Homo sapiens: one gene and its partners. The protein of the gene in region 2 purifies or fractionates together with the protein of the main gene of each other region. This does not show direct contact. Each region holds a gene or a part of one and is shown on either strand. Other genes may lie near its edges.

Region 1 (3,500 bases), on a different chromosome or scaffold from region 2:
GCAGCTGCTACAGCAGCCCAGCTCACCCAGCTGTGTGCGTCAGAAGGTGCTCAAGTGTTTCTCCAGCTGGGTGCAGCTGGAGGTGCCGCTGCAGGACTGTGAGGCGCTCATTCAGGCTGCCTTTGCTGCTCTGCAGGACTCGGAGCTCTTCGACAGCAGTGTGGAGGCCATTGTGAATGCCATCTCACAGCCTGATGCCCAGAGGTGAGCTAGTACCCACTCACCCAGAAGACAACCTCTTTGGCCAGCCACACATCCATCCATCCATCTGTTCAATAAACATTAATTGAATGTGTACTGATACCTGGTCCTATGCTGGAGATACAGCAAGGAACCAAAGAAGACATGGTCCCTGTCCTCATGGTTCAGACAGGGAGGCAGACATTAAACAACTAATTATCAGTTATTCAATTAAAATATTTGACTCTCTTTTCCTTCTCTCAACTAGTCACCAAGTCCTGGCTGTTCCCCTCCTGACCATATTGCAAATCTATTTTTTTCCATTTCCATTGCTACCACCTTAGTCCAAGCTGTCATCATCTCTCTCCCCAGATTACTGTAGAGCTTGTCCTCACTCTTGTACCCTTCATTGTCCCAGCAGCCACAGTGATCTTTTGAAAATGGGGATCTAATCTTTCTGATCAGAAGCTTTCAGTGGCTTCTCAATGCTCTTAGGTTAAAGCTCAGAATCCTTAATGTGACTCATAATGGTGCTGCACAGTATGGCATCACTGGCCTCATCTCATGCTACTCTCCTTGCTCTCTACACGCTCACACAGTTTCTTTAATTCCTTGAATGTCCCATGTTCCTTTCAGCCTCTGGCTCATTACATATACTTGACACCTTGCCTCAGCTTAAACTTCATTTCCATAGGGAAGTCCTCCATGGATTCTTAAGGCTAAGTTTGATCTTCTCTCTTATATTACCTCAGAGCTCCCAGTATTTTTCCTTCTTAGCCCATAACATGATTTCTCTCACCTCTGTGAGGACAGGGACTCTGTCATTTTACTTTGTCGCATTGTGCTCGGCACATGGTAGCATTTGATATTTTGTGAATGGAGGAAAGTAGGAGTTGCCTGAGTTGGGAGGGGTGGGGCTGGAAGGGATTGGGGGAGGAAGGTGGATTGTTCTAGGCTTTAGGAACCACAGCATGTGCAAAGACTTGTGGGCAGCATCATGATATATTCAAGGGCCCTAAAGAAGTGAGTGTAGTGAAGTGTTTGGCAAATGTTCATTGAGCATGTCCTGTTTTGGGCCCTGTGCTGAGCTCTGGGAGCACAGAGACAAATGCTTTAGCTTCAGTCTCAGGAGCTCACAGTCTAGTGGACACATGAGTGGCAAGTACAATCAACATGATGAATCCTCTGATGGAGAACGCAGGGGCCTTGAAGAACCCAGAGGAGGCTTTCACTGAGTCTGAGGGCTGTGAAAGGATTCGCAGAGGAAGTGACAACCCAGCTGTGTAAGAGTTAGCCAGATGGAAGTGATGGATGGGGAGGACATTCCAGCCCAAGCAAGGGAAGGGTGAAAGCCCAGAGGGTCTGGTGATCTGTAAATCATTAGATGTGATTAGACAGCAAGATTTAAGGGCCAGAGGTATAGGAGACCTGGGCCCAGATCATGCAGGACCTTGGCCAAGTTTAAGATTTTGATCTTCATCCTGAAGACGATATAAAGATATTAAAGGATTATAAGCAGAGAAAATGGCCTACTGAGACTTTTGGTATGAGCTGGATTAGAAGAAGTGAGACTGGAGGTCCTGATGCTGACATTTCAGAGATGGGGCTTTGGGACCTTTGGCAGAATTGGAAGGGAAAACCATTGAAAGAGACTTCATGGAAGAGTGGCTGATGACTCAAGCCTTGGCATTAGTCACATCTAAGTTTGAATCCCAGATGGTTCACTTATTAGATCTGAAATCTTGGATCAGCCATTCCTAAGGCTCCGTTTCCTCATCAATAAAATGGGGATGATCATATCAACCCCACAGAGTTGAAAAGGTTTAAACAGGATAATGTGCACAAGTCCTGCCCCTGGTGTTCGGTAGAGAATATTTTGACTCCTTGAGTAATGGGAGTTCTTTTGTGGTCTCTGCTAGGGTTGGGATGGTCAGTAGCATGCATTTGTACCTTTGGGTTATTGATACGTTACATGTTTTAAAATGGGAACTGTGTGTATATGTTCTACCTTTATACTTTATGTGATCAGTTAATGGTAATTGTTTATTTATTTATTTTGAGACAGAGTCTCACTCTGTCACCCAGGCTGGTGTGCAGTGGCACAATCTCGGCTCACTGCAACCTCCGCCTCCCGGGTTCAAGCGATTCTCTTGCCTCAGCCTCCAGAATAGCTGGGATTACAGGCGTGCATCACCACGCCCAGCTAATTTTTGTATTTTTAGTAGAAACGGGGTTTTGCCATGTTGGTCAGGCTGGTCTTGAACTCCTAACCTCAGGTGATCCATCTGCCTCCGCCTCCCAAAGTGCTGGGATTACAGGTATGAGCCACCATGCCTGGCCAACTGTTCATTTTTTTAAAGAGAAACATAGTTACTATTAAATGGATTAAGGCTGTTTACTTTTAGTACTGGTCATAAGAAGTAGAACTGGAATCATGCAATAGAAAGTGGGCCTAGTTGTTCAGTGGCTAAATTTGAAAAGGAGTTGGTTTCCTATATATATATGTGTGTGTATACATACATATATTTATATGTATATGATACACACACACACATAGATAATGTGCTTAATCACTGCCTTTTGAAACTTTAAATAAAATATTGGGTTGATTTTAAAAAATAAAAGATTGTTTCGGTATGAGGATTAAATAAGAGAATGTGAAGCTTTTAGCATGGTTCCTATATACTCTGTAAACGGCAGTTGCCAGTATTTGGTTTCATTATTGTGTTGGGAGTTATTATGATACTTATCCCCTGGCTTCCCAGGCTTTCCAGCTTAAGGTGGATACCTAATCCCAGATCTCTTGGCAGCCTGAAGCTCAAGTGCTGGGTGGGCTCTGACAGTTGGTGACTAAGGGAAACAGATCAGGGCAAGTGTGTGGGTGATGTGAGGTGTCCTTGGATACACCCAAGTTTACCCGCCCAGCCAGTCTCAAGGGCTTTGGCAGGTAATTGATGCCCCTTCTCCTCTGAACGAATGAGCGAGCAAGGAGCCAGTGAGGTAACCCACAGCCTCCTTGGTGCCCATTGGCTGCAGCCCCTTGGTTGCTTAGCAACTCTCCCCATTTTCTCAGCTCTGCTCCTGAAGCAAAGCTCTAATTGCAGGTCTGGGCTGAGCTCCGTGTGAGCAGCAGCAGAGGAGTCCCAGCAGCCCTGCCTCGGCTACTTGAACTGACCGATTGGAGCCAGGCCTCTTGAACCCAGCCTCAGCTGTGGTCATAAAGACATCCTCCCTGTCTCCTTCCCCCAAACCTAGAAACCTCTGGGACCTCAGACTTGTTCTTCTGTCCACTCACAGGTCGCAGACACAGGTGCTCAGGT
Region 2 (3,500 bases):
TACAATGCGGTAGAGCATGATTAGAAAAGATAAACCTTCAAACAATAGTGTTGTCCAAGACACTACCCTCACTTATCCCAGGGGAACCCACGGAATTTCTTCATTTGTATTAACTCCTGACATGGCATGGAAGAAGAATTTTTATCAAATACCCTTGGCATCTTATATCAGATTAAAGGACCATTAAATACACTGAGGTAAAATTGGCAGAGAGTATAGTTTCTATTAATAAATCTAAGTCTATTTTGTCTGTTTTAGGCAACAAAGGCAAAATGGACTTTGTGGGAAATGTATCTCATAAAAGCCCTTTGGAAAAACTGCAGACCAAAACCAAAACCCTCCTTCATGTTTTCTCGCATGAAACATAAACTTGCCCTATTTCAAAAAGTTCCTACTGAGTATGATTGTGTGAAAGATCACACTACTTCAAATCATATTTATTTTAAAAATCTGTGATGGGACAGTGGCCTCACTGCCAGGAAGCCCAAGTTCTGTTTTATGCTCGGTACAACTAAGTGGAAGTTGATTCACTTTGTCTCAAGCTACATAAAATAATCAGAAAATCAAGAAGATCTCATGCTAGACAGGTTAGACTTGCACCCAAAAAAGCATCTTTTTTTTTAACCTGCTGTTTTGGTTTGCTGCTGAAGTCTTTGAAGAGAATTATGTATTCAAAGTAGCTCTTTGCCCATTGGCATTTCCCCATCTTCTATGTCTTCTGTAGGGCACATCCCCCCCAAAGTAAGAGGCCTTAGTAGAAAAGCACTTCCACCTGCAGTTTTCCCCTAGGTCTGCAGAGAGAAACAGTGCAGAGTGCAATGCCACAGTCAAGGACCAACTTTCCTACAGAGCCCGGGCCCCAGGGAGGGTGGTCAGCAGCGCAGCCTGCCCAGGCTGGGATCTCCCTTTGGTCATAGCCGTGTTTCCATATACCCCTCCACTCACCCTCAGAGGAGGAACGGATGGAAGCCACCAGCATAAATAAAGGGAACACAGAAGAACAATGTCACCAAAGTGCAGGTGCAAAGCCCAAAGCAGCCCCCTACCTCTGCCAGCCCAGACCCGCCACTAAATTCTAGAGGAGGGTGTCTCTCAGGTCACAGTACTTTTTTCTTCATTTCTTTTGATTTAGAAACAAATCAGCAGGGAGGACAAGGTTCTCAAGGACAAAAAAATCAAAGCTGAAACGAGAGCAGCACAATCCATTGGTGACGTTCATCTTTTTCCAGAGGAATATACCATTCTGTTAGGACTTAGGGGAAAAAAGATCTTTTAGGAGGTGCAGGGAAAACATTCAGAATTAAGACATACTGACCCACCACCACAGAAACAGCAATTAATTAAAATAGCACACAAAATGATTTTTAAAGTTTGAAATGAAACCTAACACTAGAAAGATATACACTTGATGGAGAGAGAGGAATCCTGGCTTCTGCTTCATACTGTTCTGTACTGTTGTGAATTATTTACATGTGTTTTTTGTTGGTGGTGGTTTTCTTCTTTTTTGAGACGGAGTCTTGCTCTGTTGCCCAGGCTGGAGTGCAGTGGCATGATCTTGGCTCACTGCAACCTCTGCCTCCGAAGTTCAAGCGATTCTCCCACCTCGGCTTCCTCAGTAGTAGCTGGGATTACCATGCCCAGCTAATTTTTGTATTTTTAGTAGAGATGGTATTTCACCATGTTGGCCAGACTGATCTAGAACTCCTGACCTCAGGTGATCTGCCTCCCAAACTGTTGGGATTACAGGCGTGAACCACTATGCCCAGCCACATGTGTATTTTTTTAAAAATCATAAGCCATGTGTGGTGGCTCACGCCTGTAATCCCAGCACTCTGGGAGGCTGAGGTGGGTGGATCATTTGAGGTCAGCAGTTCAAGACCAGCCTGGCCAAAAGGGTGAAACCCCATCTCTACTAAAAATCTAAAAATTAGCTGGGCGTGGTGGTGGGCGCCTGTAATCCCACCTACTCGGGAGGCTGAAGAGGGAGAACTGCTTGAACCCGGGTGGTGGAGGTTGCAGTGAGCCAAGATTGTGCCACTGCACTCCAGCCTGGACGACACAGCAAGACTCCGTCTCAAAAACAAACAAACAAAAATCATAAAAGGGGGAAAACCCTTAAAGTCAATTATCTGAAAAGGCAGTAGTCCAGAGCTAAATTGTAAAGCTAGCCTACTGGACTAGTTAGCAAAGATATTCTGAGCTCAGTGGCTCGTTCTGTAGCTAATATTGAGTTGTGCAAGAGAATCGTGTTCCCTGCAGGAAGTCTGGGAACAATTCATAGTTGGGCCACCAATGGTTCTTTGCCAATGTCCTGGCTGTTGCTATGCTGAAAGCAGAAGGAAGGGTGCATGCTGGTAGCAACGCAGTGAGAGTACAGTCTTCCTGCTTAGACAGGTTGTCTTTAGAGAGACCCTTGCTTAGCTCTGCTGCCATGGGGTGGAAGGAGGGCTTATCTGTCTGACAGAGGAATGGATTGGCTGTACTCAGGAACTCCAGCCTACGGTGCTTAAGCCAGGCTGATGTGGGGAGTTGGAGGCCTATGTGCTTCCAGGCTCGTGTTTCCAGGGAGCACAGTCTAGCACTTTACCACACAAAGTGTGGATCCAGTGGCATTTGGTTTCACCTGGGAACTTCCTAAGAATGTAGACACAGGCCAGGCACGGTGGCTTATGCCTGTAATCTCAGCACTTTGGGAGGTCGAGGCGGGCGGATCACCTGAGGTTGGGAGTTCGAGACCAGCCTGACCAACATGGAGAAACCCATCTCTACTAAAAATACAAAATTAGCTGGACGTGGTGGTGGCGCCTGTAATCCTAGCTACTCGGGAGGCTGAGGCAGAAGAATCGCTTGAACCCAGGCAGCAGAGGTTGTAGTGAGCCGAGATTGCACCATTGTACTCCAGCCTGGGCAACAAGAGCAAAACTCCATCTCCAAAAAAAAAAAAAAGAATGTAGAAATATAGGCTCCACCCCACATCTAATGAATCAGATAATGCTTTTTATCAAAATTCCCCAAGGTGATTCAAATGCCTATTAAAGTTTATGGAGCGCTGGCAGAATGCAGAAAGCTCAGGACTGGGAGACTAGGGAGTTGCTATCAGGTCCTGAGTTTGCCACTAACTTGCAGTAGAAACTTAGCGGAAAAAAAAAAAAAAGAGTGTTTCTGCGTGGGCCTATTTCCTCATCTGTGAAGGGAGGTAGCTGCTGTAGAGTATTCCAAGGTCTCTGCTAGCTCTAACGTCACAGATATGTGTATCTAGATGTTTCTAGTTTGTTGTCTAAAAAGGGCGAATGCAACAGCAACAGCAACCGCATCCCCAGAATCAGCCACTGCTGCTTCATGGCAAATGCAAGCCCACTACTGGGTCCATCTGACGTTGCCTATCCCTCCTATCCCTCCCATGGACCTGGCTCCTCCTTCCTTACCTTCTGGTCCAAACGTTGGTAGTCACTGGCCTTTGGCCGCCGGGTGACTTTAGATCTTTTTCCTTCCAGGACAAA
Region 3 (2,380 bases), on a different chromosome or scaffold from region 2:
GCAGGAACCTCATGCGACCTGTGACCAAGATGTCCCATCCTCAGCACAGGGCCCACTCTGCCAACCAGTCTCAAGCACCAGCCCCTCAACACTGCCATCCACCTGGCTCTGGGCCAAGCCACCAATCCAGAGCTCCCTCAGGTCCTGGGACTAAGGCGGGGACATGACTGATCCCCTCAGAGCAGGCTCAGGCCTGGAGTCGGCCCCCAAAAGTTTCACATAGGGCCAGGCAGCCTCTGTGTTTCTTTCCCTGGTCCTGAACTGTGGAAATGCCATTAAACTCTCTCTATAATGTAACTGAAACTGCTGGCTGGGCGCAGTGGCTCCCACCTGTAATCTCAGCCCTTCCCGAGGCTGAGGTGGAAGGATTGCTCGAGGCCAGGTGTTCGAGACCAGCCTGGGCAACATAGCAAGACCCTGTCTCTATTTATATTGAAAAATAAAAATAACAAAAGAAAATGCTGTGGATGATCAAAACCAGGGTGGGCAGGACCCGGTGCTCACAGGGACACACATGGATGGTCCATTCGCTTTATTGGGTGCGTGTAGTGTTGTCATGACATCTCCTAAGGAACTGGGGGGCACGTTTGACACTCATGAGGTCAGAACAGGTCTGGTGGGCGGGGGGGGGGGGGGTCCCAGGGTGGTGAATACCCACAGCACACCCCCCCACCAAAAGAGAAAACGGGGAGAGGAGCCTGGCAGGCCAGACTCTGATCCCCATGGTCCACACAGGGAAACCCCCAACAGCGGCCTCGGCCCACCGCGGCAGAGCCGAGGGGCTGGCAGGCCTGGCCACCTCCCATTGCCCGATCAGCCTGCTTTAGGGTGTCATCTGGCCCCTCTTCACAACTGACAACTGTGGATGGGGGTGAATTTTAAAAAAAGGCGGGGGGGGGGGGTTCAGGAGGGTGAGCGGTGAGTTCACGGGGCCACGAGACACCACAGCTGAGTGGGGAAAGGGCTATATGTACAGGAGGGGCAGGGCTTGGGGCGGGCAGGGGAGCCTGGGCCCCTGGGGGACATCTTCAATAAATAAATAAATAGCTACAATAATAAATAAGGGTGACGGGCTAAGTCAGGAGCAGGGGTCTTGTGCCCGTGGCTGGTAGGGGCCGGGTCAGGCCCGGGTAGTTGGGGGAAGGTGGGGAAGACAGGGAAGAGGGGAAAGGGAGTGGGATGGCTCTCAGCAGGCGCAGTCCTGGTGCGGTGGCACCTGCTGGTCACTGAGCTGTGGGCCCTGCTTGGCGCCTGTGACCGCAGGGTCCGCCGTGTCCAACGACTCGGACATCTTCTCGCAGATGACATCCACCAGGCGCTCAAAGGTCTGCTTGACGTTAATGTTGTCCTTGGCGCTTGCCTCAAAGAACTCGAACCCTGTGGTCAGAGAAGGCAGGGATGAGGACCCTGGCCACGCCCTATGCCAACTCCCAGAGATGCTTCTCTGAGGAAAGGGAACACCTGGAGATTCCCAGTGCCAAGCAACTTATTGAAGGTACTGACAAATCCCACAGAGAAGAAACTTATTGAAGGTACTGACAAATCCCACAGAGAAGCAACATGGAACTGGGTCAGCTTTGCATTTCCTGCTTTTTTTTTTTTTTTTTTTTTTTGAGACAGGGCCTTGCTCTGCTGCCCAGGATGGAGTATGGTGGCGTGATCATAGCTCACTGCAGTCTCGACCTCCTGGGCTCAAGTGATCCTCCACCCCCACCTCTCAAATTGCTGGGATTATAGGTGTGAGCCAGCGCACCTGGCCTCCTGCCCTTCCTTCCTAAAATTGTGTCTCGTTGTCCTTAGGGACCTGGCAAGACATGCCCTGCAGCGTCCAGCCCAGCCCCGTGCACTGGCCCTGGAAGGCTCTGACACTCAAATCCAGCTGTGACCTCCCCCTGCTCACACACCCTCTGTGACTCCCTATTGCCCTCCAAAGAGTCCCAGCCTCTCAGCACATGGTTGAGGCCCTCTGTGATCGGCCACATTTCCTCCAGCTGACCCTCATGTTCCAGTCTTGTGAAATTATTACCAAAACACACAGGACCTTTCTCACTGCAAGCCTTTGCCCAAGCTATTTCCTCTGCCTGAAAGACCCTTCTTCACTACCCACCACTCCAGGAAGCCTGGCTCCTCTCATGTGCTCCTCCCATCCAGGTCCCTCCCTCTACCTCAGGGGTCCCTCGAGGCACCCCTAGATGCCTCTTGAGCCCAGCAACACCCAACAAAGCGTTGGACGGTGAGTGTCAGAATAAATCCTTAAACTTTCTGCATGGCAAACTCCTACACATCCCTCAGGATCCAACTCAAATGGCTCCTGGATGAAGGCTAGTTTGCAGAAAGTGTGAATTACCTGGCTTTAGCTGTAAGACCTTGGGTGTGTGCC
Region 4 (3,500 bases), on a different chromosome or scaffold from region 2:
ACATTATCTTACGATATAATCATCTAGTGTCTCTATGTGGCAGGTCCTAGCAAGAATAATTAAGAACTCCCCTCAAGTTGCCTGCTGTTTGGTTGAGGAAACAGATAGTTGCAATGGAGTACAACACACGCTCTAACCAAGCCTGCAAGAAGTACTGAGGAGGAGCGCAGGAAGGCTTTGGAATAGAATATCCATTCTATGCCAAACAGTTAACCCCAAGAGTTCTTATCCTGCTACATTATGAAAGAAAGACTGTCACAATCTTGGCAAAAATCCCAAGAATCAGATAGGTTCTCAGAGACTCCCCAGATGCACACCTGGGTAAGAATTTGAGCCCAGTTCATAAACTGAAGCAGTTACTCATTCTATTAACCACAAGCTTCTATAAAGAAGAGGGAGAGAATTTCAGAAAAATGTAAGGGCAAGTGCAAAGGCCAGGAATGGAGTGAGCTTGGGATGTCTCCTTAATTTGGTGCAACCAGAGCAAAAAGTGTAAGTTGAAGATGATCCCAAGGCTAAGAAGTTCAGAGGGTAGGAATGAAGGCTAGATGGATCTAAATTAACAAGGGCAGAGACTCCAGGACTTCTCAGTGCCTCCCCAGACCTCTTCCTGGTTACATCCAAGCTTCTCTCTATGGGTCAGAGTAGAGACTGGATTGCTGTCCTCCAGGAAGGGAAAGGTTTGCAGTCAGCCCAAGGCCAGAGCAATCCAGTGCACCTCAGATTTCAGCATGAGATCTAAGTGCAGCCTCATCATCAAGTACCAGCCATGTGATAAGCACACACTCACATGACAACATGAGGGTCATGCAGCAGCCATGAGTGTAACTGTCATGAAACTAACACTGTTCTCTGATACCAGGCTCCAGATGAATCTCCCACTTAGGGTGGAATCAAAATAGGTACCTATATCTGCTTTCCTGCCACACTCTCCCATTCCATCCCAAGTGGCAGACCACAACCACAGCCCCAGTTGGCATAGCACTTTCAAGAAGCCAAATCCTGGTAAGAGCTGGATAAGGCTCAAGCCTATAATCCCAGCACTTTGGGAGGGCAAGGCAGGAGAATCACTTGATCCCAGGTGTTTGAGACTAGCCTGGGCAACATAGTGAGACCTGTCTCTACAAAAAATAAAAATAATTAGCCAGGCATATAGTCTCAGTTACTAGGGGGACTGAGGTGGGAGGAACCACTTGAGCCCGAGAGGATCACACCACTGCACTCCAGCCTGGGCAACAGAAGGAAACCCTGTCTCAAAACAAACAAACAAACAAACAAAAAAACAAAAAAACAAATAAATCCTGCTAAGGTCAGAGGGAGTTGATGTAGGACTCAGCCCTACAGGGTCATTTTGCATTCCCTTACCAACATTTGATAAGAATGGCAATTCAAGGCAATGCCATAGGAGTAAAGCGGAGAAGAGAGAAAACAAGAAGGAGGGGAACTTGGGAGAAGGAGACAAGATCATCTAGGATAACTCAAGCAACTTCTGCGTCATGCCTGGAAGAATATTTCTCCTAGCAGGTTTATATTCTTATTCTCATCTTAATGAGACAGGGAAGTAAAATAACTTTCTCAGGATCACACAGCAAAGGAAGCAGAATTTGAAACATGGTCTATGACTGAGCTTCCTACGTGGCAGCATCCTGCCTCCCAGAGGAGAGGCCCCTCCCTGGTGGGGAGCTACTGAGGGATTGAAGGAGCTCCCTAGAAACTCCAGGCCCCATCACCTAGATTAGGAGAAAGAAACTGCAAGCTCATTTACAATGAGACATATTTCACTTCAGTGCCCCAAACCGGAAGGGACATAGCACAGTGAGGGCTGGGAAGGGTGACTGCAGCTTTAGCACTGTCACTGATCAGGTATGTGGGCCTCCATTTATGTATCTGTAAAATGAAAAGAGAATACTAATTTCCACTGCAGAGTTGGTCTAAAGATTAAATGAATTTTTATTGCACATTTAAAACCTTGTATTCAATTTTCATTATTTGTTGAGTGCCTACTACATGTCAGGCACTAGAGACACAGGCTACTAAAACAATGGAGATACAGAGGCAAAGACAAGCAAGTTCCCTGCTCTATAGAAGCCTACATCCTAATGGGAAAGTCAGTAAGTAATTAAATGTGAAAACACATCTGAAACCAGTACGCACTATATATAAACAATTAAAACAGGGATTTGTAATAGTGACTGGGTAGCGACCATTCAGAGGAGGTGATCTTGTTTTCTTGTTTCTGATGGTTTTTTTTTTTTTCTTTTGAGTCAGGGTCTTGCTCTGTTACCCAGGCTGGAGTGTAGTGGCATGATCAGGGCTCCCTGCAGCCTTGACCCCCCAGACTCAAGCAATCTTCCTGCCTCAGCCTCCTGAGTAGCTGGGACTACAGGCACATGCCACCATGCCCAGTTAACTTTTTTATATATCTATTGTAGAGATAGGGTTGCCCTATATTGCCCATGCTGGTCTCAGACTCTTGGGCTCAATCGATCCTCCCACCTCAGCCTCCCGAAGATTACAGGTACAAGCCACCAGGCCTGGCTGTGATCTTGTATAAGTTAAAATTATTCAGGCTCAGGATCGCCTGGCAATACAAAACAAGGAAGTCTGCAATGAACTAGGATACCTTAAGAGGAAATGGGGCCTAGGAAAAAGAACCTTGAGCTTGGGGGCAGATCAGCTGAGTTCTAACTCTGGCCTTGGCAATGACTTGCTGTGTGACCAGGGACAAGTCAGACCCTCTCAAGACCTTCCACGATCTTTGGAGCTACAGCATACTGTAATTTGCTTTCCTGAGCCTTGTCCCTCCCAAAACAATACTGTCCCACAGCATTTCCTTCCCCATGTCCGGGATCCCTTCAGCAGAAGATATTAGAATAAGGAATCTATTTTCCTGTGGGGCCAGTGGTTTGGCAAATAGTGCAAAAACATTCCAGGCAGCCAGATTATGGAATGAGGAATACTCAGGGAAGCACGTCCTGGGTAGCAGAACTGCTGGATGCTCCCTCAACTACACCAGGCCTACCACCACTAGAACCCCAAAGGGGCTGCCCTAACATCCAACAGCTTCATAAAGTCATCATTACCCATCTAACACCCTGACAGAGGGAAACCATTAATAAAGGCCCAGCGCAGTGGCTCATGCCTGTAATCCCACTACTTTGGGAGGCCAAGGCGGGTGGATCACCTGAGGTCAGGAGTTCGAGACTAGCTTGGCCAACATGACGAAACCCTGTCTCTACTAAAATACAAAAAAATTAGCCAGGTGTAGTGACGTGCACCTGTAATCCCAGCTACTCGGGAGGCTGAGACAGGAGAAGCACCTGAACCCAGGAGGCAGACAGAGGTTGCAGTGAGCCGAGATTGCACCACTGCACTCCAGCCTGGGCAAGAGCAAGACTCCGTCTCAAAATAATAATAATAATAATAATAATAGCCTTATAATTATGTGTTTAAAAACACAGAGTGAAAGAAAATTCCAAAAGGCATTCCCTATCTCTAAA

What was found. Proteins that work in one complex are often made in the same cells at the same time.
Region 1: the proteins of TGOLN2 (region 2) and IPO13 purify together in Homo sapiens (affinity purification with mass spectrometry; 4 studies listed by BioGRID and IntAct, with this or other methods). This does not show direct contact.
Region 3: the proteins of TGOLN2 (region 2) and RAB3A purify together in Homo sapiens (affinity purification with mass spectrometry; 3 studies listed by BioGRID and IntAct, with this or other methods). This does not show direct contact.
Region 4: the proteins of TGOLN2 (region 2) and INTS4 purify together in Homo sapiens (affinity purification with mass spectrometry; 4 studies listed by BioGRID and IntAct, with this or other methods). This does not show direct contact.

The regions. Positions count from the first base shown.
Region 1 is NC_000001.11:43,949,950-43,953,449, forward strand, and holds part of IPO13 (importin-13), read left to right. Parts: coding exon 1-204; intron 205-3,500. UniProt on the Homo sapiens protein: Functions in nuclear protein import as nuclear transport receptor. Serves as receptor for nuclear localization signals (NLS) in cargo substrates.
Region 2 is NC_000002.12:85,321,490-85,324,989, forward strand, and holds part of TGOLN2 (trans-Golgi network integral membrane protein 2 isoform 1 precursor), read right to left. Parts: coding exon 3,426-3,500; intron 1,311-3,425; coding exon of another isoform or gene 1,253-1,310; coding exon 1,247-1,252; coding exon of another isoform or gene 1,216-1,246; 3' UTR 1-1,215. UniProt on the Homo sapiens protein: May be involved in regulating membrane traffic to and from trans-Golgi network.
Region 3 is NC_000019.10:18,196,284-18,198,663, forward strand, and holds the end of RAB3A (ras-related protein Rab-3A), read right to left. Parts: intron 1,378-2,380; coding exon 1,187-1,377; 3' UTR 501-1,186; downstream 1-500. UniProt on the Homo sapiens protein: The small GTPases Rab are key regulators of intracellular membrane trafficking, from the formation of transport vesicles to their fusion with membranes.
Region 4 is NC_000011.10:77,879,669-77,883,168, forward strand, and holds part of INTS4 (integrator complex subunit 4), read right to left. Parts: intron 1-3,500. UniProt on the Homo sapiens protein: Component of the integrator complex, a multiprotein complex that terminates RNA polymerase II (Pol II) transcription in the promoter-proximal region of genes.